5 separate regions of the Homo sapiens genome follow, and all the other regions are linked to region 3. The links come from fine-mapping of genetic effects on gene expression. A gene starts in region 3. Each other region holds a variant in brackets. All regions are shown on one strand. Distances are between the middles of the regions. Region 1 has its middle 8.9 kb from the start of LINC01300. Region 2 has its middle 16 kb from the start of LINC01300. Region 3 holds the start of PTP4A3 (protein tyrosine phosphatase 4A3). Region 4 overlaps LOC105375789 (a long non-coding RNA gene). Region 5 overlaps SLC45A4 (solute carrier family 45 member 4).

The links. PIP is the estimated chance that this variant, and not a neighbour inherited with it, causes the effect.
Region 1: its variant is the best candidate, but not a certain one, in a credible set for the expression of PTP4A3 in whole blood (TOPMed, PIP 0.65).
Region 2: its variant is the best candidate, but not a certain one, in a credible set for the expression of PTP4A3 in whole blood (INTERVAL, PIP 0.61).
Region 4: its variant is the best candidate, but not a certain one, in a credible set for the expression of PTP4A3 in whole blood (INTERVAL, PIP 0.82).
Region 5: its variant is the best candidate, but not a certain one, in a credible set for the expression of PTP4A3 in whole blood (TOPMed, PIP 0.73).

What each region holds. Positions count from the first base shown.
Region 1 is chr8:141,328,504-141,334,733 of GRCh38, forward strand. No RefSeq gene overlaps it. Among named protein-coding and RNA genes, the nearest start is that of LINC01300, 8.9 kb to the right of the region's middle. RefSeq lists enhancers at 604-1,140, 1,141-1,675. The variant T/C (reference allele first, on the strand shown) is at 3,156.
Region 2 is chr8:141,321,461-141,327,690 of GRCh38, forward strand. No RefSeq gene overlaps it. Among named protein-coding and RNA genes, the nearest start is that of LINC01300, 16 kb to the right of the region's middle. RefSeq lists an enhancer at 2,566-3,066. The variant C/T (reference allele first, on the strand shown) is at 2,917.
Region 3 is chr8:141,389,444-141,394,443 of GRCh38, forward strand. PTP4A3 (protein tyrosine phosphatase 4A3) reads left to right here and starts at 2,578. Exons shown (of 6, transcript NM_032611.3): 1 at 2,578-2,641. It overlaps ASTILCS (antisense transcript of PTP4A3, liver carcinoma survival associated), which reads right to left and starts at 3,178. Exons shown (of 2, transcript NR_187488.1): 1 at 2,965-3,178; 2 at 425-1,708. RefSeq lists an enhancer at 1,650-2,270.
Region 4 is chr8:141,440,569-141,446,798 of GRCh38, forward strand. It overlaps LOC105375789 (a long non-coding RNA gene), which reads left to right. Exons shown (of 3, transcript XR_928722.3): 1 at 1-6,230. It also overlaps MROH5. Among named protein-coding and RNA genes, the nearest start is that of ASTILCS, 51 kb to the left of the region's middle. The variant C/T (reference allele first, on the strand shown) is at 3,570.
Region 5 is chr8:141,290,690-141,296,919 of GRCh38, forward strand. The region is part of intron 1 of SLC45A4 (solute carrier family 45 member 4); the gene reads right to left. Among named protein-coding and RNA genes, the nearest start is that of SLC45A4, 14 kb to the right of the region's middle. The variant G/T (reference allele first, on the strand shown) is at 2,538.

The sequences.
Region 1 (6,230 bases), 60 kb before region 3:
GCGGGGCTGAGGCAGGGGCTGCTGGGGGTGGACAGGGGAGGTGGGCTTGGGAGCACTGAAGAAAGGGTGACACTCCAGGCATCTGTGAAAGCCCAGAAGACATCCCTAGACAAAGGAGGAAACAGGGTTAGGGAAGGGCACTCCTAGAGAAGGAGCAGCTTGCAGAGGCCCAGTAGTGGCACCACAGGGGCAGCTGGAAGATGTGGCACCACGGGGGCAGCTGGAAGATGTGGCACCACGGGGCAGCTGGAAAGTGGGGTTGGTGGGCAGAGGTGAGACTGAGTCCTGGGAGAAGTCCACACCGGACATGGGAGACTTTCCCCTGACCTGATGGGCTTTATTTAAGCAAGGAAGGGACTGGTGTGAATTAGATTGGAGACACTCCCTCTGTCGGCACAGAGACAGCACTCTCCACTAGAAATCTCATGCCAGCCTCGTGAATAATTTCTAATTTTCTATCAGCCACGTTAGGAAAACGGAAAAAGAATTTGATGCAAATTATTTTAGTAATATATTTTATGGAACCTAATATATCCAATATATTATTTAAACGTGTCATTCATATAACAAATTATGAATGAGATATTTCACAGTCTGTCTCATACTAGGTGGGGACATATTCCACGCTTACCGTACAACTCAATTCGGACTGGCTGCACCTCATGTACTCAGAAGACAGGCTGCAGTCTTGTATGACATCTTGGATGAGACTCAGGCCGCAGTCTTGGATGACACATACGTGGACATCGGGCTGTGGTGGCCGGAGTAGAGTCAGAGAGGCTGGAAGGAGGCCCTTTTCCAGGGCAGGAATGATGGTGCCTGGCCTGGAGCTGTGGTGGGGTTCCTGGCCCTCCATTCAGCTGCCAGCCCATCCCAGCTTGCACCGGAGGGAAGCAGCGGGCCTGGGCTCTGCGGCATCCCAGGGGGGCAGGTCACAGGGCAGCTACCCTACCCCAGCCTCCTCCCTGACCCCGCCGGTGTCTGCCCAGACAGCCGGCATCCCCATCCCGCTGGGCTGGCTCCCGGCCCTGCCCTACCCCCAACTCCAGACTCATGTCAGGCTTCCTGTCCCAGCCGGAGGGTGACCCGAGGCCTGACCCCAGAGGCCCAGGCGATGGGCCCGGAAGGAAGGCCGCCTCCTTGATGCAGCCACAGCAGGCGGGGCTGGGGCTTCCCCATGGACTCCCTCGGGAAGCACTTCACACTTTGGTGGGCGCTCAGCCAGGGCGGCCCCCAGCAGCGGCAGGAGGCGAGGGCCTCTGGGGCAGGGAGGACATGCACCTGCGCCTGGGCCTGTGAGGGGCTCCCCCACCACAGCGTGGGGTCTCTGGGCATGCCAGGGTTGCCCCCACTAGACAGCCAGGGTTCTCAGGGAACACAGAGCAGGCAAGCAGGCCGGCTTCTGCTTCAGCCTCAGCCCCTGTCCGCACCTGGGGCAGCACAGGACAGGTTTAGGAACAGACCCTAGCTGCACGCCTGGTGAGGACCTTCACCTCTGGGCCTCCCGCTGCTCCTCTGTGAAAATGGAGGTATCGGGGTGTTCGTCCCTTCTAGGGCCAGAGAGAGATGGCAGCGAATGCACGTGGTCCCTAAAGGAGAGCCGTCCGTGGCCACGTAGGAAAGTGTCAGGCCCAGCTCCTCATTCCTGGGATGTGGCCTTTTCTCACCTGCGCTGAACTCTGCTCTCAGGACTCAAACCCTGAGCTGCTGTGGAGGCTAACTCACTCATGCTCCAGGCCCATCTTCTGAATAAGTTTCCCAGACCCTCCAACCTGCCCTCCGTGTCGGCCCTGGGGTGCCTGCCTCTCCTTCCCTCTTCCTCTTCTTCTCACAAATATGGGCCGAGCTCATGTGATACGTCAGGCACTATGCTAGGACGTGGGGGTCCAGCTGGAAGGGACAGGACAGAACCCTGCCCTCCTGGAGCTGGCAGTCTGTAGCAGACACTAATCAGTTAAACAGATCACAAACTGTGACTGTCTCCAGCAGAGACACCTGGTTGGCCTTGGGGGAGCACATAGCAGATGGATGGGGGTCCCTGCCCAGGGCTGCCGGCAGGCGGTGCACCTTGCACTGCTCACTTAGTCCCACAGCCTCGCTTGCCCGCAGGCAGTGTGTCCTCTGCACACTTTCAGGGCTCCGTCCTTCTGCCCAGCGCCTCTGCAGGCTACGCCTTCTGTGCTGGGCCTCTGGGCATAGTTACTAGGCAGCCAGGGCTGGGGCCAGCCCTTGGCCTTAGCTCAGCTCCAGGGAGGATCAAGAGGGTGTCCAGTGTGGCCGTACACCTGGGCACCTGCTTCAGAATCCAGGTCCTTGGGAAACAAGTGGCTTTGGTCTTGCCAATGCCTTTGCTCTGTTTTCAGCTGGGAATTAAGCTGGGGAACAGCAGGAGGGGCAGCATTTGCTGGCCCTGGTGCAGGAGGTTGTGGGTGAGAAGAGCCGAGTTCAGGTCCCCACCTGGGCAGCCTGTGGTGTGAGCTAGAGGTGCAGAAGCCTGCGGGGACACGGAGGGCAGCCGGGCAGGAGCCTGCGGGGACACGGAGGGCAGCCAGGCAGGAGGCTGCGGGGACGTGGAGGGCAGCCGGGCAGGAGCCTGCAGGGATGCGGAGGGCAGCAGGGCAGGCTGGGCTTTCTCCAGTGCTTGCTCCCCTCCCAAGGGAGTTCCTAATTTGGGTCCCCCTGCTCTTCCTTGGTTGAGTGGGCCCCACGCACTTGGCTATGATCCAGCAGACTCCTGCGTCCTGGTGTGTCCCTGCCCCACCTTCCCACTGCCCTCGGCCTCTCTCCCAGCCCCTGGGAGCTGGGTTTTTTGCTTCCAATTTCAAATACATCAGACTCCATCCCACTGTCCTATCCCAAGGTGTCTTTTGCCTTTCTGGGAAAATAAAGTGGCAGGGGAGTGAACCCACCGCAATGGGACAGCCCTCCTCCTGTCCTCCGCGGGAGCAGCATCTCGCAGGGGCTCCGCCAAGCCTTCGAGGCCCAGCCAAAGCTGGGGTGGGGGCACTGGCCGGAAGCTTAGGGGAGGGGGAGCCTGCAGGACTTCACTCCTGTGCCCGTGTGGCCGGGGGTACCTGCTTGACCTCTGAGCTGTCACCGGGAATAGTGTCCAGCCTGCCTGCCTGCTGGGACCTCTGCAGAGACCATGAGCTCAG[T/C]CCTCAGGGCCTAGGTCCTGGGTTAACACTGAGGGCTGTGCGGCCAAGGACCCCGGGGTGGGCATGACCGGGGTGTGTGGAGGAAGGAAGGGGGTCTGGGAAAGGATGCAGACAAGAGGTGGGTGCTGGGCCAGCACCTGCTTCTGTTCTTGGCCTCAGGACCGTCTATGGAATTGGGAGTAATTCTCTGCAACATGGGCCCTGCAGCCGAGGTCTGGGCAGAGGCGTCAGGGCACAGAGCAGTGGTACCACCATGCCAGGGAGATGCTCAGGCCAGGACCAAGCAGAAAGGGGAGCTCACCATAAACTCCCTGGGGGGAGGGGAGCGCTTTACCCCCACAAGAATGGGCAGCAACAGGTCATCTATCCTCAGGGCCCATAACCCCTTCACCTGCTTCCTGGTGACCTGCTGCCGGGAAGGGCCCTGGGCCTCAGGGCCTTTGTGGGGCTTCCTGTACCCCCCTGAATGCTGTCACTGTGCCTGAAACCTCACCAGTGGGGCCTCATTTCTTTGGTCCTATAACACTCCTTGATTTTCCAGCGTTAAGCACACAGTCATGAGCTGTTGCCTGAAGCTGACACTTACTGAGGGTGTTCTGTGCAGCAGGCTTTGTCCTGAGCCTTTTGATTTTTTTTTTTACATGTCTTGTTTATGCAGGATAAATCCCAGTAACCCATTTGCAGAAAAGGAAGCAGCAGCTCAGAGAGGTTAGGTAGGTTGCCTAAGGTCACCCAACTTGTGGCAGAAGCAGGATGGAGCCCTGCCTATGTGATGATGGGGCCAGGAGCACCCTGATCATCTTTAGAGCCCACCCCTAACCCAGGTGGGGGCAGCAGGTCCCTGTAAGCATGCTGGATGAAACCAGGCGGCTGACAGAACGGGAGGGAGGCTGCCCTTGGGCTTCCGCATTTCTGGATTCGAGCTCTGCTCAGTCACAATGGGCTGTGTGCCCTTGAGCAAGTTACTTCACCTCTCTGAGCCTCAGTGTCCTCTTATCAAATGGGATACTAAGATATAATTCAAAAATATGTTCTTGAGAATTCAATGGGAAGATCCTGCCGGAGTCTGGAGCCTGTCTATTTAGTTTGACAATAAATAATTGGGCTAGTATTTACACTGATCTCTAGTAAGGGGGGCACAGAGCAGGGAAGGGTGTGCCGGGAGGGCTGAAGTGTGCCCCTGGGCATCGGGGCGACTGTGCCAGCACCCGCCTCTAGGTTTACAGCCCTTCCTGAGAACTAGAAAAATCCCCTCCTCTGAGCAGATGCCATCCTTGGACTCATGGGCTTGGCACCTGGTTTGGCCCCACAGAAGAGACTCCTACCCAGTTCTCTTTTCTAGCCCAGAAGAATGGCATTTCTGGACCATCTGGAACATCTGGATCATCTCCCCTGCTGATGCACAAACAGCCAGGCCTCCGGAGAAGGGGGGTGGGACAGGGTGTTGCAGGCAGAGGGAACGGCCCCTGCAAAGGATCATCAGGGAGACTGAGCAGGTCAGGATGGCTGCCGGAACAAGCAGCGTCTCAGTGGACCTGTGGAGGGCAGGGGATGAGCAGGTGAAGGAGGAGATGGGTGGAGAGCGTGTACCTGGGGCAGGCCTGGAGGCGGGAGGGAGGGGCTGGAGCCAGAGAAAGGGGCGGCTGGTGGAGGGAGGTGAGGCTGGAGGGGCTGGGCCTGGTACTTTGGATGAAGCCAGGTCACTGCAAAGATGAAATGTGATAGCACTGGGCAAAGGAAGCAAAGCCCATCACCATGAGACCAGCTCCCAATCCTTCCCTGGAATTCATTTAGGAAAAGATCTAGAGAAGTCAAGGTGGGGCCCGGAGGGGATGGGATCAGGGTCCGTGGGAAGCAAGTTCATGTCTTTGCACCGAGGATGGACAGGAGTGTGGAGTGTGGGAGGGAAGAGGAGGAGGAAGCAGCCGAGGGGAGCTGGAGGGGAGGGGTGAGAGGAGGGGCTGGAGGAAAGCCTGGGGTTGTGTGCAGGGACCCACAGAGGACTCAGGTGAGTGAGACCGCAGGCAGGCCGTGAACAGCCCCAATCCCACGACAGAGGCAGCCAAACCCTTTCCCAAAGATGTTTTATAGAGACCTGGCGGGGCAGGGGGGGACTTTGGTCTTTTTCAGACACAGAAGTTCCTTCTGTGACTGAGGGTAAGTGTCTTAGCCTCCTGCCTCAGTTTCCTCATTGCATAACAGGACTGTTTCAGTGTCCACACTCAGAGTGTGAGGGCTAGATGAGGAAATGCACGTGCAGTAGGATGCCACCTGTCTTTGGAATGTCTGCATGTCAGGTGCCCCAGCCCTCAGGATCCAGGACAGGTCTGGCTGCGGTGGGTGCTGGATGGATGCTGAGGAGGGGAGGGACAGTCACTGCATACCAGCCTCTGCCAAAATGGGGAGCCCAGGGGCAGGAGTAGACAGGAAGGACTTCCTGGAGGAGGAGGGCTGGCAGTTTGGGAAGATTTAGATGGGGAGAAAGTGGGGCAAGGGCATGGGGGTGGGAAGTCTGGGAAAAGATGTCCTGGCAGGGTGGAGGGGAACGGAAGTTACGATGGTAGTGGGGAAAAGCATCTGCCCAGGAGCCAATGGTGCAAACACAGTGTGTGTGTGTGTGTGTGTATGCACACCCGTGTGCACAAGCACCTCCACCGCTTTCCCAGCCTCCTAGCCAGAGCCCTGGGGCTCAGCTCAGGCCCTTACCCCCAGCCCCACCCGACCACAGGCTTCACAACCAGAGGCCAAGACCCCGGCAAATGCACATCCCCTCGTCCCTCTCTGTCCCAGCCCCACTGCTCTCCCAGAGCCTGCTGCCATCCCCTCTCTGTCCTCCAGGCCTTGGGTCCTCCACACCCTCCTGCTGCCACCTGGATGCCCCAACCTCCCGTGGACTGTTGGGGTCTCCCAGGGGCCCCCGCACTTCTGTCTGTATGGCTCTTGTCCACTCTGCCCGGCTGACACCTCCGGCCACCCGAGACTGCTCGAATGCCCAGCACCCCACACAGCTGGCACCTCCTCTGCAGACCGCAGCCTGGGAGAGAGGGGAACCCACGGGCCTGTGAGTCTTTCAGA
Region 2 (6,230 bases), 67 kb before region 3:
AAATATACCTAAGGGCTGGGTGCTGTGGCTCACGCCTGTAATCCCAGCACTTTGGGAGGCCGAGGCAGGTGGATCACGAGGTCAGGAGTTCGAGACCATCCTGTCTAACATGGTGAAACCCCATCTTTACTAAAAATACAAAAAATTAGCCAGGCATGGTGGTGGGTGCCTGTAGTCCCAGCTACTCGGGAGGCTGAGGCAGGAGAATGGCGTGAACCTGGGAGGCAGAGCGTGCAGTGAGTCAAGATCGCACCACTGCACTCCAGCCTGGGCAACATGGCAACACTCGACCTCAAAAATAAGTAAATAAATAACTAAAATTAAAAATAAAATAAAAATATACAAAAAATGCCTGGGCGCAGTGGCTCACACCTGTAATCCCAGCACTTTGGGAGGCCAAGGCAGGTGGATCACCTGAGGTCAGGAGTTCGAAACCAGCCTGGCCAACATGGTGAAACCCCATCTCTATTAAAAGTACAACAATTAGCCAGGCATGGAGGTGGGTGCCTGTAATTCCAGCTACTTGGGAGGCTGAGGCAGGAGAGTCACTTGAACTCGGGAGGCAGAGGTTGCAGTGAGCAGAGATCGTGCCATTATACTCTATCCTAGGCAACAGAGTGAGACTCTGTCTCAAAATATAATAATAATAGATAAATAAAAATATAAATATACATAAAATAAAATACAAAATAAAAAGACTGGAGCCTTGTGTTGGTCAAAGGGCTGGATGTGGGAGTATACCATCTCTGAGTTCAGAGGTGACCAGGCATTTGTGGGGCCCCTCACCCCCTGCTCCCCACTCAACTCCTGTTCAGGTTCCTGACACAGGTATGACCCCATTGCTCTCACAACCATGATGCCATTTGAGCCTCGATGACCAATGACAGCTGACATCTATGGAGCATTCTCCATGCTAAACACTTTTCATCCCTTGCTCATTTGAGGCCACCTGCAATTTTAGGGCCATATTCTGATCACCCTTTACCGATGCATAAATGGGCCTGGGCGTGGCCCAGTGGCCTGGACACTCGTTAGGGGAAGGCAGAGCCCTGGCCCCTCTGTCCATTGCCCCAGGCTGTCCTCAAGGCCGGTAATAAGGTCACTCTCATCCTGCAGGGGTGGGGTACAGAAATGAACGAGACTAACCCAGTTCTTGCTCAACCTGCCAGGTTGGTTTGACCCTGTTGGCACCCCACACCTGGAGCACCCTCAGGCTACGCCCTCCCCACCTGCTCTTTCCCAGAGCAGGGACTTCTGCGGTCGCAGCTGGGCTGGGGGCCCCTAGCCGTGGGGGGTCTGGGCCTTTGGGATACCCTCCTTAGTCTCCAGAGAACATGGGTTTGAGGACCTGGGCTTGACCCTCCTGGGTCTCCAGGCAAAGCCTCAGCCCCACCAGCTTCGAGGGTGAGGGCAGGTGCACAGCCACCGTGGGAGGCAGGCATGTCCAGGGAGCCCGGTCTGTGACTGGGGGAGATCACATGGAGGGTTGAGGCCAACTTCCCACATCTACAACATTCGGCCGTGACCTCCCCTCACAGAGGCCCGGGAGGGTCATGGATTCTGCTCTGAATGCTGGCCCAGCAGGTGACACACACCACAGCTCAGCCCCCTTGTTCCAGGGCCATGAGGGGCTGGCTTCATGGATGAATGAACCCCAGGCCCACCTGGAGGCTGCATCCTGGCTACCCTGGCCCCAAGTTGGGGTGGGGTCAAAGGGCACAGGCACAATTGGATCCAGGTGTTGGAGTCCCCTCCACTCTCTGCAAGCTATGACATCAGACAACCTGCTTCCCTGCTCTGTGTCTCAGTTTCCCCATGTGTATAGCACATGGCACTGGTATAGGTTGTTGTGAGCATTCGCTTCTCTGAGGCCAATGAGACAGATTTGTAGCCCATTGAGTGGGGGCCACCGGGGCACCAGATGGGGATTTGAGAGTGCACAGGCATGCCCACATTCTGCCTCAGACTGCAGGTGAACAGGCTCACACACGTGTGCATGCACATACATGTACACATCCACATGCACATGCCGGCGGCTGTCCCATACTCCCCTTTTGCCACTGTCCCGCTGGTCTATGTGTGCCCACGGATCCTGCCCCGCTGGGTGTGCCCCACTGCACAGGCACACACACACCCCTCCTGTCCTTTGCTCACACACACAGTCCCTCAGTGTCCCATGCCCCAGCCCCAGGGTGTCTTGCTTTTCATTTTGTCCCCTGCCCCTTTTGTCTGACACATGTTTCTGTCTGTCACTCACGTCTTCCTGAGGGAGTCTGCCCTGGGCCTAAGGGTTTGAACAGCTTCAGAGAAAGAGGAACTGGCCAGGCGCTGGACCAAAGCCCCTTCTTCCTGCTGCCCTGGCCTGGGCCCCAGTGGGGGTCCTTGAGAGCCAAGGCCACCCCGCCTGTCCTCCTGTTAGTGGCTGATGCTCCATCTGCCTGTGCCAGACGCCCTGTTGGCTCTCGGTCCAGCGGCTGTTCTGGGATGTGTCTCCAGGTGCCCCTCGAGGAGTCCCCTCCTTTCTGCAAGGAATGCCAGCCACACCCTCTTTGCCACTGTCCTGTGGGCCCATTGGGTTTGGAAATGTGGGCCTCGCTGACCAGGCGAGTCCTGTGTGCAGGCTCCTGAGTGTCCGCCTGCACGCACAGCACCGATCAGGTGGACAGACGCCTCTCAGGGGAGGACCCTGATGCGCAGCTCCCACCTCCCAGTGGCCTCCGTGATGACGCCATGGTGACTTCTGCAGGGACTAAGGCTGTCCATCCCGTCCTGGTGCCCAGCCCAGAGCCTGGTCTGTGGCAGGCCAGCGAGGAACAAAACCCACCCACCTTAAACATGGCTGCTCCGCCCACCCAGGGCCTTCCAAGGCACAGAGTCTTTCTGACCGGCCTGCAGCAGACATAAGACCAGAAGTCT[C/T]GTGCCTGGGCTGTGGGCTCCCCAGGGTAAAGCCACCAGAAGCTGTGCAGGTCCAGGGTGTAGTCTGTCCTCGCCATGCTTGGAGCCCTCTGGAAGGCCTTGCGCTCCTCTGGGCCTCACGTATCTCTCCTGTCGAGGAGTCTGGGGACCCTCCCTCCCCTCGCTGCCATGAGTGGGGTGTGGTGGAGGGGCCTGGGCCTCAGCTCAGAAGCCCCAGGGCTGGGCTGGAATCCTGGCTCCAATCTTGGCCACTGGGAAGCACTGGGCTCTACTTCAGTCTCCTCACCTGTATAGTGGGAACACCAGCAGTACCCACCTCATGGGCCCTTGGAACAGGGGACTAATGGGTGGCCCTGGGTGAAGTGGTGCCACATGGAGGCTCCAGGAAGGCCAGCCTGCTATAGGAGGTGCTGACTTGGTGGGGCTGGGGGGTCTTGATCCCCCATTCAGGTGGCTCCAGGACACTCATCTGCCATAATCCTGGGGTCACCTGAATAAGGTCTCTGCTCATCCCTGGAGGCTCCTTCAAGAACACTGTGCTCCTTCCAGGACTCTGCCCACAGTGGGTGGGAGGAGCCTTCGCCTCGAGCCTCAGTCTCCTCACCCATGACAGGGAATGCAGCCCGACGGGACCACAGGCCTTGCAGGAGGGGGTGATAGGCCCTGCATAAAGGGGGCAGCGATGAGACGGCAGCAATGAGACACAAGCTCTTCAGCCCCAAGGCCATAGCACCCCTGAGAGTGAGCTCCTTCCGGAAGCTTCTCAGGCTCCCTGAAGCTGCTGGGGAACTAGAAGCGTTCAGTCTGGGTCACCTAGCATGACACCCCGGGAAGCACAGCCCCAGCTCTGACTCCGAGCTCTGGGGGCGAGAGGGGGCTCTCGCATCAGCACGTGGCAGTCCCTCAATGTCGAACCCAGAAGAGTGAAGAAAAACCAAGAGACAACAGCCGGCCTCGGTCCTGAGCCCGACCGGCCTTCGGCATTGACCCCAGCAGCGCCCCGTGGTGTGGCTGCTGCTACGCGACCCCCCGGGGGATGCGGAGGCCCTGGGGCTGCTGAGCAAGCTGCCACGTGGTGCCTGCCATGCTGGGGTCTGAGGCCCCCCACCTGCCGTGGCCCCGACACACATAGCACATCATGGGACCTGCGGTTCACAGAGGATTGTACTCCCAGGGGCTCTGCCGACCCTACAACCAACCCCCACCACGAGGGGCGGCAAGGACAGGATCAGCCCACTTTGTGAATGAAGAAGCTGAGGCCCAGGGACGTGAAGGGCACACGGGGGCTGGACTCCTGGCCAGGAGGTAAGGGGCGGGCAGGGTCTCTGCAGACGGAAAAGATGGAAAGGCGTTCCCGGCTGAAGGAGCAGCGCTGCGGAAACAGCAAGGCCTGGAGACCCTCTAAGGCTGCCAGCCCCCTCGAGGGCTGCAGCCACAGAAGGCGGGGGTGGGGGTGGCGGGGGCAAGGACCCAGAGAGGGCCTGGGGTCAAAGGTCATCCATACTCTGGCCTCTTCGCACACACTGTTCCTTCAGTCAGATGCCGCCCGGCCTTGCCCAGCTCCCATGCCCTCCAATCTAAACTAAAACGCAGCGCCCCTCCCAAATGCTTTCTCAGCCATCCCTATTCCAGAGCAGGAACAAAGACGCTGGGACCAGCTCAAGACACAGACGTCTGGACAGCCTTACTGGAGACGGTGGGGACTTGGAGGCCAGGGAGGGCGAGGGGCCGGGGGGACAAGGAGGGGCGGAGGAGGGGAAGCTTTGGTCCAGCCTGGCAGCCTGAGGTCCAGTCCTACTCTGCCTACCCCGCCGTTAGGCGAGTCCAGCCCTGCAGGAGTGCCCTAAGCACTAAAGAGATTTCCCCAGCTTGCCAGCTTTCACCCCGGAGCTCAGCAGATGGCTGTGACTGCCTATGGTGGGGTCTCCGGCAGCTTGCTTCCCGCAAAGCTCCTTCCAGGGCTCAGGGCTTCCTTCGGGGTTTCCTGCTACGGTACGAACTCACTCGAGCCTCATCACACCCATTTCACAGGTGGGCTCAGAGAGACGCCTGCTGGGGCACACGGCTAGACAGCAGCAGGCTGAGCTGAGAATATGCCCACCGGGGGTGGGGCGGCAGGGCTGGAGGTGCCAGGGCTGCTCCCCAGGTGGGGTGGGACCGGGAGAAGAGACATCGATACCCCTGTGGATGCCTGAGGTCAATTAGTCGAGGAGGAGGCAGAGGAGGAGGAGGCAGAGGAGGAGGAGGCTGTTGCAAGGGCCAGATTTTGAAATGTAGCTGCAACAACTGCCCTGGTAAACTTGATTCACCCCACCAGGCTGGGAGCCACCTTCTCCCGGAGCCTCCTTCTCCAGGGAGGGCTACAGCCCCCAGCCCACTTGAAGCAGGGGTCCCAGCCCTCTTCATCTGTAAAATGGGGTGGAGAGTTTCTTTCTTGGGGTGTTGTGGGTTGAACTGTGACTCCCCAAATTCAAACTGAAGTCCTTAGAATGTGACCTTATTTGGAGGGAGTCTCCACAGAGGTAATCAAGTTGAATAAGGTCGTTGGAGTGGCCCTAATCCAATGTGACTGTGTCCTTGGAAAAAGGGAGATTTGGAGACAGATGTGCCACATGAAGGAGAGGATGGCCCTCTGCAAGCCAAGGAGGCAGGCCTGGAACGGACCCTTCCCTCTGGCCCTCGGAAGAACCCAGCCTGCTGACACCTTGATTTCAGACTTCTGGCCTCCGGAGCTGTGAGGCAATAAATGCCTGTTGTTTCAGCCGCCCAGCGAGTGGAACTTTGTTCTGGCAGCCCCGGCAGGTGACAGGGGGTTGTTAAGGTTGTTTAGATGTGTGCGAGGCACGGAGCGACGCCCAGAAGACGAGGGCCTCCGGTGAGTGTGAGTGATTCCTAAACACGGCACACAGCCAACAAAACAAGACAACACCAAGACCGGGTGTGAGGTGGGCGGGAAAAGCAGGACTTGTAGTTGACCTCTGGGTCCTGGGGATGGGGGCGGGCACCAGGCATCATGATGGGTAGGAGCACAGCTGAAGGCCGGGGCCCTCGGGGGACACACTTAGCCCCCCTGTGCTTCGGTTTCCCCCTTGGCCAATAGCACCCACCCAAGGGGTTGGAGGATTACCTAAGGCAGGGGTTGGCCAACTCTTTCGGGAAGGGCCCAGGGAGTAAATCTTTTCTCCTTTGCGGGCTGTGAGGTCTGTGTTGTAAGACTCACTTCTGCAGCTGCAGTTTGCACGCAGCCTTACAGCAGATGTAAAGGAGTGGGTGTGGCTGAGTTCCCAGGAAACTTGATTCGTGGACACTGAAAG
Region 3 (5,000 bases):
TCCCAGGATTCTCCCCAAGCCTGTTCATGCCCGGCCCATTCCACTCACAGCAGTTGGACAGCTCTGGTTTCACCGTGCCTGGGTTTGAATCTTGATTCTGCTTTCGCTTAGCTTCTGCTTCCTAATCTGCAAAATGGGGGTGTCAGGGATTCCTCTGCAGGGCTCAGTGTGGACTTGGTGGGTGGGTGTAAGTCCCTGGCATGTGGTCAGCACTCGGTGAATGTCTGAGAACTGAAATGAATCCAGCATGGAGGAGCCTCCTCCTTTGCTCCCGACTCCCTGCAGGATGGTAAGAGCGTGGGGAGGAAGGAGGCTCCAGCCTCTCGGGAGCCCACTCACCCCAGCAAATTTGGGTGGCTGGGATAGAAACCTCTCTGAGATTTTGGGCAGGAGAGGAGGAAAATAGCATGAAACAGGCAGGGGGTGTTGGTGCTGCTCAGGCTAGATGAAGCCAAACATTTATTTATTAATGCTTTTTTTTTTTTTATCTTTTTTGAGACAGGCTCTCGCTCTTTCACTTAGGCTGGGGTGCTGGCGGGATCAGGGCTTACTCTAGCCTTGTCCTCTTAGGCTCAGGTGATCCTCCCACCTCAATCTCCAAGCTGGGACTATAGGAGCATGCCACCATGACTGGCTAATTTTTTATTTTTTGTAGAGATAGGGTCCCACTATGTTACCTAGGCTGGTCTTGAATTCCTAGGCTCAAGTGATCCTCCCGCCTCAGCCTCCCAAATTGCTGGGATTATAGTGTGAGTCACTGTGCCCGGCCTTAAGCTAAACATTTAAAAAATAAGAATTAAAATGCAGCCACAGTGAAACGGGAAGGGGCTGCTTTTACAGGTGCTGAACTTCCCGGCAATAGAAGCATTTAATGGGAGGTTCCCTTTTTCCTAGGACCTCAAAGCTGGAGTACCAGGGATGTTGCCTTGACCTTCCCATGTGTGGATTTCTGCTTGAACACACCAAGTACAGGACACCCTGTTTAGCAGCTAAACGTGGGAATTGCACCAGCTTTACTCCCAACTTGCTGGGCAATCTTCGGGAGTTGCTGACCTTCTCTGTGTCTCATCAGCAAAACAGGGAGAACACTAGCTCTCCCAACATGGGCTGTGTGAGGACCAAATGAGCTGAGGAGCCCAGATTTGAACCCGGGTCTGCAAGGTTATGTCCTCTGAGCCATCCCCACCCCTGCCCTTAAGGACCAGGGGCCTCTGGACACCATCAGCTTGCCCACCTGTCCAGGATTTGCACGCACCTGCTCGGTGCCAGATGCTGGGCACTGGGGACAAACCAGGTGAGGTGTGGACCGTGACCTGTGTTGTCACTGATTGGGGGACTTTCTGGCAGAGTGGAGAGTGCAGTGGGCTGAGAGACAGGATGGCCAGTGGAGACTGAGCTCTCAGAGGCGGCGGCAGCTGATGGGGACCATGCAATGGGAAGGATGGAGGCCCTGGGATAGTCTGCGGTGAACTTCCAGGCAGAAGGAACAGCAGGTGCAAAGGCCTTTAGCTGGGAAGGAAACTCTGGGTTGGAGGAATAGCTTGCAGGCGCTCTGAGAGAGGCTGGCAGCCAGGTGGCAGGGAGGCAGCCCAGTCAGGTGGTCTTGGGACAGTTTAGGGTCTCTGGCCTTCACCAGTGAGGTGGTGTCTGGAGACTTTTGCAGACGAAGGCAGCTCTCACTCCCATCTTCCCGGGGTCCCTCTGGCTGCTGAGGGTGGATGGGTGGAAAAGCATCTTTCAGGGAAGTGGAGGCAGGGCTGGAGCAGTTGAACATCTGACTGGGCCAAGGGTCCAGGGACTGGCATGGAACAGGGCTGGGTGGGTGAGGCCGCCTGGGAGACCCCAGCTTGCCTCTGTTTCCCCCTGTACTGGGGCCTCCTGCGTGAACCAGCACTGGTTTTTCCAGTAACTGGAGCCACAAGCCTCCCTAGGAACGGCTGACCCATAAGAGGACGTCCTCAAGGTCCCCAAGGGCTAGAGGCTGAGATGCCGCCTTCGCCTGGGCGGGCCTCGCAGCCTGGAGGCAGGCGGTGGTGCAGCTCGGGCAGGCCCCGTCCACACGCCTCCCCGCTCTTCTGAGCACCACGCGTCCCGTGGGCTCCCTACCCGTCCTGATAACACGGCGGTCCGGGGGCCTCGAAGCCGGTCTGACCCCAAGTACCCGGGCCAGGCGGCTGCCGTCTTGTCGCCCCAGCCCATCCCCTCAGCCAGCCCGCCTGGCGGCACGGGACCTAGCCCCAGTCGACTTAGGGGGAAACTGAGAACTCCAGAAGTTTCGTGAACTCCCTGGCTTCGTCCGCATCCCGCCCTCTGCCTCTTCGCTCGGGCTTCAAAACTGCCCCTCCGACGCCCGCCTGCCCCAGGCCGACCTGGCCTAGGCGCCCGGCAGGCACAGGAGCCAAGGTCAGTCCCCGAGGCCGCCCGCGCGACCGGAGCCGCCTCCTCCCAGCCCAGGGGCGGCCTCGGGGGCGGCGGGCGCGCGGCCGCGGCGTGGGGAGCGCTCCCATTGGGCCGTGCCCCCACGTGACCCAGCGGGTCCGGCGCGCGCCCTAAGCCGGTGGAGCCGCGGCCGCGCCTGTGCGCGAGGGCGCGCGCGTCCCGAGCCCTCCACCCGTCGTGCCGGCGCCGCCCGGACCGCCAGGTCAGTCTCCTCCGCGCCCGCTCGGGGCGGGGGCGCGCGGCGCTTTGTGGAGGCGCGTGGGGGGCCGTCCGCGCGCGAGCCCGCCGCCCGCTCCGGGCACGGCTTCGGGGCCGCGCAGCCGGGAGGGCCGCCGCCTTCCCCCTGCCCGCGCGTCCCGGGACCCTGCGCCTGGCGGCCGATCCGGCGGGAACGTGGGCCTGGAGGCTGCCACGTGCCGGGGCCGAGCCTCAGGAGGCCGCTGTTTCCCCAGGCGAGCCACAGAACACCCCTGGCTGGAAGGGGGTGACCCGCTCCCGTTTCTGGGTGCGCGGGAGACCTCCTACCCTGAGTTCATCCTGCGCAGGGTCCCGCCCAGGATCTGGCTCTGCCCCCATTCACGGCTCATTTTCCTCAGCTGCACAGTTTGGGGGGCTGGAACCCCACAGCCTTCCGTGCCTCCAGGGCGGGTCGTAGATGTCAGTGGAGGTCAGGGGAAAGCAGAGCGTCAGGTCTCAGGCCGGGTGGAGTCCGCCTCAGACCATACCAGTGTTGGGACTCGGGCGGCGCCTCAGCCCTCCAAGCACACCCCGGTAGAATCAGGTCAGCAGCCTTGATCCACGTGCCTCAGGGATTAAACGGGTGACTCCTGACACGCCCCTGGGCAGCTGGTGGCCCAGGGGTGGGGTGGTGGCATGCTTAGCTCCAAGTGGGCAGAGCAGTTTCACCCTGCCGGTTCCCGGAGGGAAGCCCTTTATGAGGGAGGCTTCCCTGGCCCTCTGTGATAGCGGCTCCAAGGGCAGCGTGAGGTCCAGGCTAGCTGGTCACAGTGTGTGCCCGGGCACCCTCAGCCAAGACAGAAAGGCACGTGCTGCACCCCCTCTCTCTGCCTGCGGGCTCTGGGGTGTGCCCCGCACACGATGGTGGGTGTTGGGCATCCACCTAGTCTGTGGACCCTGGGGGCCCTGCTCCCAGGTTGGAGCAGTGTCCTCGGCTGCAGACCAGAGGAGGTCACTGAACACAGGGTGCCTGTGGCCTTGCACAGACAGAAGCCGCCTGGCAGCCCTGTGCAGAGCCGTGCTTCACTGAGTTCCTGCAATCCTCCCAAGAAGTTCGTTAACCCCATTTCTCAGATGAGGAGACTGAGGCCCACAAAGGTGGAGTTGGTGCAGCCCCTAGCCTGCGGGGCTAAGCAGAGCCTTGTTGTCCCCATCTGCAAAGGGGGCGTTGGAGCTGCTGTAAATGGGCCCCGAACCTGTCACCTGAGTGGAATTAGGCATTGGGGATCTCCCCATCACCACGCCGGCCCCCCTCACTGTGGTTACGAAGGAGGAGAAGCTGCCCTGTGTAGGAATTCCTGGGCTGTTTCCAAATAGCCCCGCTAGGGAGCTGGTCACCCCTCAACACCCCCAACGTGTTCTCCAAGCACTTACTCTGTGCCAGGCCCAATGCTGGACCTGGAGATGGGGCATGGCTGGCTGGCTGAGCGGGGCAGGTTGCGGACAGGCCCCCGCAGGCAGTCGGCGTGATGGGAGAAAATGCAGGCGGGGATGAGATGCAGCCTCCAGGTGGTTTCCTCAGCTGCCTGCTCCTCTCTGCCTTTGCCCTCCTCCCGGAAGCTTGCGCTGACCACTGGAGTAAGGCTGGGGGCCTCAGCTGGTCCCCTCTCTGTCCCAAGTAACAGCCCAGAACATGGTGAGGGTGGCTGGCTGATGCAGTCAGGCACTGGACATGGGAGGCAGGAGGAAGGCCGGGAGGTGGGCAGCTTTCTCAGACAAGTGGGCAGTTTGGATGGCGAGGAGGTCTTGGAGGCACCATGGGTGGCTGGGCTCAAAGATGACATGAGGGCATGCTTAACAGATGCTTAACCAAATCCTGAATTGGCATTGGCCAATTTCTGTGGTGTAACTACTCCCAAGCTACACAGACGTGACTTTACTGGCTGAGGACTTGGGCAGAGGTGCACACAGTCAGACTGAGAGGGGGGCATAAGCTGGTGTGAGCCCTCCCTCTCACCGCCAGGGTGGGCAGAGTGTCCGCTGGTGCCCAATGCCTATGCACGTGACCTCCTTAGGGACTTACATCCAGATGGCGGTGATACAGCTTGGGGAGGCCTCTCCCTGGTTGGCAGGTCCTGGCGAAAGGGTGAGTTAAGTGGAAAGTGTACCAGGCTGGTGTCCAGGTGGCATTTGGCCAGAGGGGCTGAGCTGGGAGCTCCTGGGCCTGGGGCTGGCAGATAGTGGTGATTTTTCGCCCCCCAAGACCTTGGGCTTGCCTTGTTCCATGAAGGTCCCAAATCTGACCAAAGGCTGTAACCAGATGGTCACTGTCCCAGACCACCCCAGGGCGCTTTCTCACCTCGAGAGCACCGTTTCTCCCCACC
Region 4 (6,230 bases), 52 kb after region 3:
GAAAGGGCCTTGCCTAAGGTCACACAGCGAGGCAAGGCCTCACTTTTATCAAGAGCCGAGCTTGTGGGGCACCTGGGGGTAGAGCGCCCATGGAGGGCGGCCTAGGCAGCTGGTGGGTGGGAGCTGGCATGAGGCTTTCGCTTGGGTTCCCCTACTAGTGTCAGTTACGGAAACAGCACCCTCCTCGCCCCAGTCCCACCCCTGCCTGAGCTCACAGCTGCAAAGTGTGCCACACCCAGCGGCATCTGCTTCTACCCATTCCCCTTTGGCTTTACCCTGAGTCCCACAGGCAGGACAGGGCTGAAGTTGGAGCCTAGACTTGCCTGAGTCTGCACCTAGTGCCCCTGCAACTCTGCAGGGATTGTGCCAGGGAGGGCCGAGTGGGGAGACAGGTCCCCAAAGTGTGCAGCCCCCCTCCAAGGGCTGGGAGTGGGAAGGCAGGAGTACGAGGGGGTCCGTCTGGGCAGCCTCCCCAGTCAGGGTGAGCTCTGGCATGGGTTCTGCTGGGGTGTCAAGGAGGCTGGAGAAGGAGGCTCAGACATCTGAGGTGCTCTCTGCTGGCCTGCATCCCTACCTTGGTGAGGATGAGGATGGCCACCTTCCTCTCACGCTCCTGTGGGCTCTGCAGGCTGGGCAGCAGCTGACGCAGCACCGCTGGGATCTGCCTGCAGTGGTTCTGCACCATGGCCCTGCAGGGGTGGGCCTGGGCTGGTGGTCACTGCTCAGAGCCCACCCTCCTGCCCCCACCCATCTCATCAGGGCTGGCATCCCGGAGGGTCCCAACGTGGCAGGCACGTTCCCACTTCCTTTCCACCCACTGGCTGCCCACTGCGTGCCAGGCTTGGGTTGGACATGCAGGAGACAGAGAAGCAGGCACAGCCCTTGTTCCCTAGGAGGTCACAGGCCAGGGTGAGGGCCGGGGGAAGACACTGCATCAACAGGCTCTGAGCGTGTGCCTGTGACCGGGGGCAGGGGGCCGTGTCCTGTCACTGCAGTCCAGATACCCAGTCCCCTGGATGGGCGTGGCCTGAAGCAGGCTGCCTCGACCTGCCCTGGCCCCACCGTACCTGGCAAGGAGGCCCACGCCCTTCGGGTAGGTGTGGATGGTGGTGAAGAGCTCCCAGGATCCCTGCAGCTCCAGGTGGGCAAAGTCATGCCAGTGCCCCGTGGTGGACAGCAGGCTCTTCAGTGCCTCCAGTGACGTGCTGCAGCTGAGCAGAGGGGGCTTAGGGCTTGCCTCAGGCCACAAGCAGCCCCCTGGGCCACCCCCTGCCCTGGGAAGGGTGCCCACCTGACCCAGATAGAAAGGCACGTTCTGGTTCCTATGCCTGGCGTCACTGAGGCCCCCTGGGGCTACTCCCTCCTGCCCTGTTTTACGCGGAAATGCTGGGACCCAGGATTGGCGGAGCCGGGCCGAGCATGGGGAGGCAGCATGTGCCCAGTCAGACCCCGGGCCTTGCTTGGGCAGGAGACCAGGGGGTGCCCTTCTAGGGAGGGGCACTCTGCTGAAGGGCACCTGCCCTTCAGCTCAAGGATGGCAGCATTTAAATATGGGCCAAGAGTATGGAGGGTAGCAGCGGGCGAGGGCGTGGGAGACTCAGGGCGTGTGGCGTAGCGGAGCCCAGAGAAGTGTCCATTCTCCACTCCTGAGACTCCTGCCCTCAGAGGACATGGAGAAACCCGCGGCACTGGCCCTCGCTTGTGAGTGACGGAGAAACCCGCGGCACTGGCCCTCGCTTGTGAGTGACGGAGAAACCCGCGGCACTGGCCCTTGCTTGTGAGTGACGGAGAAACCCACGGCACCGGCCCTCGCTTGTGAGTGCACGGCTTGTGGTGTCACCGTGTGCTTGGTAGTTGCCAGGTACCATGGATGGTGCCTCACCTGCCCAGCCTGAGGTGGCCCTCTACTGTCGCTGTCCTTCAGCAGAGGAGGGAGCAGTCCTGTCACACAGCCTGGGCAAGGGCACAGAGGTGGGGTCAAGCTGGGCCCTGGCTCCAAACCTGCCAGTGATGTCACTGTCACAGGATGTCACTGTCACTGAACGCAGTCCCTGGGGCACAGGTAGAAAGCCCCAGAATGCAGGCCCATGAAACATGAGATGGCCCTGGCTTGCTGGCCTGTCTCACTGTTCCAGCCACACACCCCTGGCCCGGCCCCTGTGCTCGGTCAGTGTAAGTGCATCACCCTGGATGTGTGAGCATGCCTGGACGAGGCTGTCAGCTTGGACCAGGCACGTTTCTGAGCAGATTTGCAAAACCAAGTGTCAAATGATGAAATGCCATCCGTGAAAGTTCTGACAGTGCCAATCCAAATGCCAGCTGGCTTGTCCTCTCACCCCAAGCTGTGTCATAAAAAAAGGCAGCATTTTCCAGGTCACTGGTCTCAGCCATAATGCGACAATGGTTTTCAGAAGAAGGGGACTTGGTGGGGGGAGTGGCATTTTGTTTGCTCTGGGAGGACTCCAGAAGCTTCTGGTCCTGTGACTTCTTGGGCACTGTATTGGCTTGTTCTTCAAGATTGCCTTGTCCCTGCAGCCCCAGCAGGGCTTCCAGAAAGATGGGCTGATTCAGCATTCTTGGGAATCCATGCCCAACTCCCCTGCAGGTCCATAGAACACAAAACCACCTCCAGCCCAGGACCCCCGGCAATGCTCAAGGACATGTGTCTCCTGAAATCCATACGCAGTCCCAAGACCGATGAAGGTGGAGCCCCTTGAGTCTCTGCCTCGCTGTGGACTCAAGGAACCATCCTCCGTTCCTGCTGGTCTCAACGTCGTTGCCTGCCTGCAGCCTCTTTGGACACTTGGCATCCCAGTGATGCCTGCCCCATACTCGACCAACCGTCCTTTCCCCACTCTGGCCCCGGAGAGGGCAAAGGCACCTGAGAAAGAGGAGGCAAAGCCCCTCTGCTTTCCATACTCCTCCCCAGCCTGAGGGTCCATGAGACCCTCTTCCCTCTCCCATTACCTCCTCCTCTTCTGGTTTTATTTTTAATTGTGGTAAAATGCACATCTCATACAATTTACCGTTTTAAGTGTACAGGTCAGTGGCATTGAGCATATTCATAATATTATGCAACCATCACCACCATCCATCTCCAGAACATTCTCATCTTCCCACACTGAAACTCTGTCCCCATTAAACATTAACTCCCCATTCTCCCTCCATCCAGCCCCTGGCACCCAGCATTCTACTTTCTGTCTCTGTAGATTTGGCTACTCATGGACCTTAAGTAGGTGGACTCACACAGTATTTGACTCAGCAGAATGTGCTCAAGGTTCATCCATGTTGTAGCATCAGAATTTCCTTCCTTTTCAAGGCTGAATAGTATTCCATTGTATGGATGGACCACACTGCTTATTCTAATTCACCCATTGATGAACACTTGTGTTGCTTCTACCTTTTGGTTATCATAACACTGCTGTGAGCAGGGCGTACAAATATCTGTCCCAGGTGCCTGCTTTCCTTTCTTTTGGGTGTACACCCATTAGTGGAATTCCTGGGCCATATGGTAATTCTATATTTAATTTTTGGAGGAACTTCCATACTCTGTTCCAAAGCAGCTGCAC[C/T]GTTTTACATTCCCACCAACAGTGCACAAGGCTTCTGATTTCTCCACATCCTCGCCAACACTCATTTTCTGATTTTTTTTTGGACAGTAGCCAACCTAATGGGTGTGAAGTTCCTCCTCTTCTTTTGATCACAAGCCTTTGGCCCCAAATCCCCAGGGGACAGAGGGAAAGATGAAGATGAGATGAGGGTGAGAATGATGAGTGCCTTCGAAATAAAGAGAAACGATGTAGCCCATTTGAATTAAATAGAGTTGGCCCACATGGATGACGTGTGAGAACAATGAGAATTCCTTTGTGGGGCAGGGTGGAGACTGGCTGGAGGAGGACCCAGCTGAGAACTGACCAACGCAGGAAACATCTCTAAGGAAAAGGCTTTGTTAGTGGAGGAGCAGGGGAGAGGGAGGCCCCTCTGGCAGGCCTGGCAGCACCTGTTGCAGTCCTGCCCAGGGAAGGGTGCCCTGCTCAACCCCACTCGCTGCTTCCTGGTCCCAGAGGCCTGTCCATCTAAGCAGGACATGAGAACTTCAGAGGCCCAGGGCTGGCCCCATCAGGCCTCAAGACTCCCCTGCTGCCCCATGGTGTCCTGTGCCGCCCCCACCGTTTTGGGCATGCAGAGAGAGTGGCTACTCAGCACTGCTCATCCAGTTGTCCTTCTGGGCCCCTGTCCCCACCTTGACAGTGCCACAGCAGCCTGGCAGGGACCTCAGACCGTGAGCCACCGGGATACACCTGGGTGTCACTCTGCTCTCAGGCCTCCCTTTCTCCCTGGCTCCGTGGTGGTGCTGGGTGGCATGGCTGCTGGTTTGGCAACCGGAGCCTGGGCCCCTTCGCGGTGGTCGAAGAGGCCTGGGCCCATGCCGCTCCCTGGAGGGCGTGGGAGCCAGGCCTGGCCAGTCAGAGCCGCACAGGCCCCTGTGGCCAAGGTGATTGGTTCAGGATTGGGTATGTGAGCAAAGCTAGGCCAATCAGAGCCCAGGACTGTGCCCGTGGTGAGAGTTTTTTCTCTTGGGGCTGCGGGAGCTGCCGGGGCCACCTCCAGGGCTCCAGGAGAACCTGCCCGGAGCGGCCTGAGCAGAAACCACCCGTGGCCCCGCGCGAGGCAGAAGTCCCTGCTATATGGGGAGCCTGAGAGAGACAGACAGACGTCCCAGCTGTATGGGGAGCCCGAGAGAGAGACACGTCCTTGCCGGTGGGGGAACCCACGAGAGACAGATGTCTCAGCTGTATGAGGAGCCCCCAGTGAGACAGACGTCCCAGCTGTATGAGGAGCCCGAGAGAGACAGACAGACGTCCCAGCTGTATGGGGAGCCCGAGAGAGACAGACAGACGTCCCAGCTGTATGAGGAGCCCGAGAGAGACAGACGTCCCAGCTGTATGAGGAGCCCGAGAGAGACAGACGTCCCAGCTGTATGAGGAGCCCGAGAGAGACAGACAGACGTCCCAGCTGTATGAGGAGCCCGAAAGAGACAGACAGACGTCCCAGCTGTATGAGGAGCCCGAGAGAGACAGACGTCCCAGCTGTATGAGGAGCCCGAGAGAGACAGACGTCCCAGCTGTATGAGGAGCCCGAGAGAGACAGACGTCCCAGCTGTATGAGGAGCCCGAGAGAGACAGACAGACGTCCCAGCTGTATGAGGAGCCCGAAAGAGACAGACAGACGTCCCAGCTGTATGAGGAGCCCGAGAGAGACAGACGTCCCAGCTGTATGGGGAGCCCGAGAGAGATAGACAGACGTCCCAGCTGTATGGGGAGCCCAAGAGAGATAGACAGACGTCCCAGCTGTATGGGGAGCCCAAGAGAGATAGACAGACGTCCCAGCTGTATGAGGAGCCCGAGACAGACAGATGTCCCAGCTGTATGAGGGGCCTGAGAGAGACAGACGTCCTTGCTGGTGGGGGAACCCGCGAGAGACAGATGTCTCAGCCGCATGGGGAGGTCCCAGTGAGACAGACAGACATTCCCGCTGTATGGGGAGCCCCCAGTGAGACAGACAGACATTCCCGCTGTATGGGGAGCCCCCAGTGAGACAGACAGACATTCCCGCTGTATGGGGAGCCCCCAGTGAGACAGACAGACGTCCTTGCTGTATGGGGAGCCCCCAGTGAGACAGACAGACGTCCTTGCTGTATGGGGAGCCCGCGAGAGACAGACAGATGTCTCTGGCTCTTCGGGACCTTCCAGTCTATGGGTGAGGGCAGTAAAGCAGGTAAAAGGCGCAGATCACAGATGGTAGCTGATGGCGGGGCTGCGGCGAGAATAAAGCAGCAGAGGGTGGGAGGCGCCGAAGGGGCTGCTATTTTGGAGGGTGGTGGGGGAGGCCTCAGTGAGGTGCGGGTGAGCAGAGCCTGCAGAGACAGGATGGCTGGGGGAAGAACATTCCAGCAGGGGGAGGAGCAGACGGGGTGAGGCTTTCTCCCAACCCTCCCACGTTCCGGGAGGAGAAGGTTTTATTAGCTTATTAGGAAAGATTCATGCATTTTGCATGGTTGAACTGAATAAAAAAGGAACTTCGTGCACATTTGAATTCGGAGGCAAGATGAGAAGAAGTGGCATTTTTTTTAAGTGACTTGCCTTGGGGAGAGCTGTTAAAACTGACAAATTGCGTGACGCACATCATAATACAAACAAATGAAAAGAGTTGGCCCCAGCGGTTTTTAGACT
Region 5 (6,230 bases), 98 kb before region 3:
CATGAACGACCAGGTCAAGCACGTTGTCCTTGGGTCCAGAGACAGACCAGGCAGCCCACGCTGCGTGTGGTCTTACCCTACGGTCCAGAGACTGCAGGGATGTGGCGGGGGGGCCTGGGGAGGATCTTTCCTGGACACACATAAACAACACCTAAATTGTTTTGTTTTGTTTTGTTTGAGACTGGGTCTCACTCTGTCACCCGGGCTGGAGTGCAGTGGTGCGATCTCAGCTCACTGTAACCTCCGCCTCCTGGGCTCAAGCGATTCTCCTGCCTCAGCCTTCCAAGTAGCTGGGATTACAGGTGCCTGCCACCATGCCGGGCTAATTTTTGTATTTTTAGTAGAGACGGGGTTTCACCATGTTGGCCAGGCTGGTCTCAAACTCCTGACCTCAAGTGATCCGCCCACCTTGGCCTCCCAAAGTGCTGGGGGTGATCCACCCACCTCAGCCTCCCAAAGTGCTGGAATTACAGGCATGAGCCACCGCACTGGCAAAACACTCCCTAAACTGTATACAAAATTGCATCTATTTGCATTTTTGTGAGAACAAGTTTACAGCTTTCACCACATCTCCAAAGGAATCCATGACCCAGAAAAGATAGAGAACCAGCCCAGTCTGGAGAAAGAGGGCTGGGGGACACACACGCGTTCATCTAACTGGCCAAAGGAATTTTTGTTGTGATGTGGTTATTATCTTCTCATAATTTTTTTTTAAATCAGTCCTCCCTTTTGTAGTTTACTTCAGAATTTAGTTGGGCAATTTAGGTTCATACCAAAACAAAAAAGGGGGGGCAAATAGAAACAAAGGAAAATAGATTCTAAGTTTAGGAAAAGCTATAAGTAACAGCGCAGATCACTACAGAGCTATTTTCTGAAGCTCATCAAACACGTACTTGGTGATGTCAGAAAGTAACAGTCAAACCACATTTTCTAGAACTGATCCAAGAGGAATGGACAAACGTATGAACGACTACAGGTAAAACTACTGGCATCTGTCAAATAAAACAAATCAGGCGAGCAGTGGTGTCTGGAGTGGAGTCCCTGGGTCAATGTTACTGGCGTGGCTTGCCAGGGCAGTGTGAGCTTGTTGTGAACCCTCTGTATAGGTGTTAACTCATGCATTTTGAAAAGTAACCCAGGACAGACCCAGCCAAGGAAAGACTGAGCTAGAAAAAAACAGCAAAATACTGGTTTCACATTTCATAACCAAAGCACAGGCCGTCCTCCAGATAAAACGTTCATCTCATCTGCATGTTAGGTTCAAAGAAGCGGCTGGGACACTACCGCTCAACCCTCAGATTCTGGGGTCTGGCCACCGCGTTGGCCCTCAGAGCTGCTGCTCCTGCGTGCCTGGTGCTGGGAGGCCATGCGCTAACTTAGGTATCACAGCACAGAGAAACCAGACCTCACGGCCCTACTCCCCGCCCCTCACCGCCCTGGAGCTGCCTCGAAGCTGCACACGGCAGACAAGCGGGTGTCCATGCACAACCTGGGGCAGGTTCTCACAGGAGAAAACGGCTCACACTCAGGAGACCTGCATACATCCCCGACCAGGGCACGCGGCATTCTGGGCCCGCCAATCCAGCTGTGGGCTCAGGCCACGTGGCACACTGGGCCCACTCTGGGCTCAGGTTCCTCAGCTATGTGGGCCGACACAGACTTCTGCTCCCTCCCCAAGGCTCTAAGTTACCGTAAACTTATGGCCACAGCTCCCACCCAACAGGGAACCACACAAGGAGGCCGTGGAGCACAGAGCCCCGCACGCGCCCAGGGCGGGAGGCTGGCCAAGCACACAGGCTCCTCGGGTCCCTCCTCGGAAGGCTGCGGCCCGCTCCTGCACCCCTGCTCTCTTGGGGGGTTCCAGTAACAGCTCCCTCCGTGTGCCCCTTGGGCCTGGAGTGGAAGCAGCAGCATGAGGCTTCACCCCTCCTTGCTGGTGTCCCTCAGCCCTGCCCGACCCTCGGTCCAGTCCTTCCACTGCCTCCTCTCTCTCTCTCCTTGCAGGTGCCACTTGCCGCCTGGTAACACGAGGACCTGACTGACACAGCAACTAACATCGCTCCACAACACACACAGGCATACACAGTCTTCATGGGTCACTGAAGGTGTCAGCGACAAAAACCACACCCTATCAACGCTGATGAAGGGCTGGCTCTAAGAAGTTCTCCATCAGCTTGTTAACAAATCAAGACTAGAACCATCAGCCTTGAAGCTGGCTCTAAACTGCAGGACAGATGAGTGCGCAGATGCCTGACTCTGGGACACTCAGGCAAGGGGCCTACATACCCCCTAGGGCCCAGATTACAGGTCAGTCATCGGAAATGGGGATTGGACACCCACATGCATGGTGACTCGAGGACAGCACCATCCTCCCCCACCCCCCTACTGAGGCTGGATGCGTGGGCCTACGTAATGCACGCCAGCAGTTCACTGTGACTACAGCCACCTGCTTCCTCAAGCCCACAAAGTGAAAAAGAAAATGCGGCCGGGCGCAGTGGCTCACACCTGTAATCCCAGCACTTTGGGAGGCTGAGGCA[G/T]GTGGATCATGAGGTCAGGGGTTCGAGACCAGCCTGGCCAACATGGTGAAACCCCATCTCTACTAAAAATACAAAAAACTAGCCAGGAGTGGTGGCAGGTGCCTGTAATCCCAGCTACTTGGGAGGCTGAGGCAAGAGAATCACTCAAACCCAGTAGGCAGAGATTGCAGTGAACCCAGATCACGCCACTGCACTCCAGCCTGGGCAACAGAATGAGACTCCGTCTCGAAGAAAAAAAAAGAAAATAAAATGCACGGCAATGGCACTGTACAAAGTGCAGGGTGGAATCCGCAAAGTTCCACTGAAGACAGTGTGGCAATGTCTGCCTTTGAGCTTAGCTTAGAGTGTTGGGACAAGGGGGAAGGCATGCTCGGAAATGCATTTTCTGTGTACAAAACTTCTCTGCAATCAAAAAATGGAAACAGACCGGGAGCAGTGGCTCATGCCTGTAATCCTAACACTTTGGGAGGCCGAGGCGGGCAGATTGCCTGAGGTTGGGAGTTTGAAACCAGCCTGGCAAACATGGTGAAACCCCGTCTCTACTAAAAGTACAAAAATCAGCTGGGCGTGGTGGTGCACACCTGTACTCCCAGCTACTTGGGAGGCTGAGGCACAAGAATGGCTTGAACCTTGGAGGTGGAGGTTGCAGTGAGCCGAGATAGTGTCGCTGCACTCCAGCCTGGGCAACAGAGCGAGACTCTATCTCAAGAAAAAAAAAAAGTAAATGTAAAAAAAAAAAATCATCCGCGGTAAAGATCTACAGAAGAAAAAGTGAGAAAAAATGGTTTGAACAAGGGTTGAGACATCTGGTTTGGGGATTCAGGCCAGCTGGGAGCAAAAAGAAGACCCTTGGGCACACCACGCTGCAGACCAGGAGGACCTGAGTCCGTGGCCCAGGATCTCTGTAGACCAGGGTCTCCGTGGACCAGGGTCTCTGTGTACTGTTAGCATAGCACTCCCCCAGGGCCAACCGAGGGACCCTGCCTGAGCTTCCTGGGGACAATGTGCCACCTGAGAAAACCCACAGCGACTGGTCAGGGTGGCTGGACAGAAGCAGGTCTCAGTCAACGCCTGCTGTGAATGAACAAGCCGCATCGGGAGGGACCAGTGCGTGCAGAGGGAACGTGCACCGGGGCCAGCCCCTGCCTAGAAGCAGAGCAGGAGGTCAGCAGAGGCAGCCCTGACCCCAGCCCCCGCCTCACCAACCCAATTCCAAGGTAGCACTGCAGGCAGATGGCCAGTGGGGACAAGGCTGGCCTGAGGCTTGCTGGGACACACGGTCCCTGCTGGTCCAAGGCTGGGACTGTGGAGCCCCATGAGGCCTCCCCAGAGCGGTCCCCTCACAGCCAGTTCCCTGTGAGCAGTGGAACTGCACCAGCACTCCTGTGGCAGGAACGGCTGTGAGCTCAACGTGGCAACCCACGTCCCGGGGAACCCATGCATGCTAAATGGGGGCCACCAGCCAGCATGGCAGGAGAAACACACATGTGAAGACAGAGGGCAGCACAAGAGAGGGGAGCGGCGGTGCTGAGCCCCAGGCCCAGTTGGTGCGGGACCCCTGGGAGGGAGGCACCCTGGGAGGGAATCAGCTCCTAAGTCACCACTTGCAGAGCCCACCAAGGGCCAATGCCAAACCTAGGCCTCATCTAACCCTCTGGGGGCTCCCAGGGCACTCCCAAGTGGCAGCCTCAGCTCGAAGGTGAGGAAAGTGAGTCAGGAACTGGCAGGTAATGGAGCATTCACACCCGGCAGAGTGGGGGCAGCAGGTTCCCCAGGTTCTCCGGGGACAGTCCTCCCACTGGACTTCAGGAGAGAGCTGCGGGCAGGCCTGTCTGTCTTGGGTTGGCAGAGGGGTGTGGACATTCCAGAGAGGGAAGTGAGAACACACACTGGACAGGAGGAAGCAGCGCTGTGTGGTCAGAGAGGAGCTGCCACAGGCTGGAGGCATGTGAGCCAGGGAAGGCAGCCCCTGTGGGTGAAGGGAAAGCAGGAGGGAAGCTGGGACCACACCTGCTTTATGGGTGGGGCCCTGGGGCTCAGAGAAATTAGAGATCTGCCCCAGGCCCCTGAGAGAGGCACCAGGATCCAATCTCTGCAGGACCTCCCAGTCCTGGCAGGAAGAGCCCAAGGGCACCAGGCGGAACTCCCAGGGCCGCCACCTTCAAGTTAGGCTCAGTTCCTCCATGAAGATCTCTCTCTTTTTAAAATGGAGATAACAGCGCATCACAGGGCTATTAACATTGAAAGTTTAAGTGTTATCAGGAACTACCGCACTCAGCAGGGGACAGGTATAAGGAAATCCCTTCTGCAATGACGTGAAGGCATCTAAGATGCAAAGAAGCTGGTCTGGAACACCCACTTCCACAACACAGCACCCAGGGGGACGCAGAAAACAGGGTAAACGGCTCCACAAGCAACTCCATCTCCCTGAACTGCCCCACGGCAGCACTGACTGAGGCCCCTCGATTGACCACTCGGAACCCAACATCAGTCTGAAAGGTCTCCAGAGGCTGGAAGCACCTGGGAAGGTTACCCTGGTTGAGTGAACGTGATGAGAAAAAACAACTTCTCAAGGCTGAAGGCCTTGAGTGCCCCAGCAGCCAGCAGCCCTGCACCGCCCAGGATGGTGCGGAGCTCATCTCGTAAGGTCAGAGGCTCCCTGGCTTTGGTGCTGGAGCCCTTGCCCCTCTGGCACAAAGGGACAAGGTGTCCACAGCCCGGGGTCAGCCCGACAAGACCACCATCCAAGCCTGGCCCCTAGGAAACAGGCTTCCAGCCTGGGCAACATGGTGAGACCCTCCCTATATAAAAATATTTAAAATTAGCAGGGCACAGTGGCTGACGCCTGTAATCCAACACTTTGGGAGGCTGTGGTGGGCGGATCACAGGAAGCCAGGAGTTTGAGACCAGCCTGGCCAACACAGTGAAACCTGGTCCGTGCTAAAAATACAAAAATTAGCCAGACATGGTGGTTCATACCTGCAATCCCAGCTACTCAGGAGGCTGAGGCACGAGAATCGCTTCAATCCAGGAGGCAGAGGTTGCAGTGAGTTGAAGTGCAGTTGCCCACTGCACTTTAGCCTGGGCAACAGAGTGAGACCCTGTTTCAAAAAACAGTAATAAATTAGCCGGGCATGGTGGCACACGCCTGTAGTCCCAGCTACTCAGGAGGCTGAGGCAGGAAGATGGCTTCAGCCCAGGAATTCAAGCTGTAGTGAGCTATGATTGCACTGCTGCACTCCAGCCTGGGTGACAGAGCAAGACCTCATTTCTTAAAAAAAAAAAAAAAAAAATTAAAATTAAAATTAAAATTAAAAAAAAAAAGAAGGCCAGGCGTGGTGGCTCACGCCAGTAATCCTAGCACTTTGGGAGGCTGGGGTGGGTGGATCACCTGAGGTTAGGAATTCAAGACCAGCCTGGCCAACATGGTGAAACCCCATCCCTATTAAAAATACAAAAATTAGCTGGGTGTGGTGGCGCACACCTGTGGTCCCAGCTACTCAGGAGGCTGAGGCAGGAGAATCGCTTGTACCCACGAGGCAGAGGTTGCAGTGAGCCGAGATCATGCCACTATACTCCAGCCTGGGTGACACAGCGAGACTCCATTGCCAAAAAAAAAAAAAAAAAAAAAGTGGAGGGAAAGACCCTCACGCCCTTTATCATATGAAGACAGAGCAAGAAGGGGCGATGTTT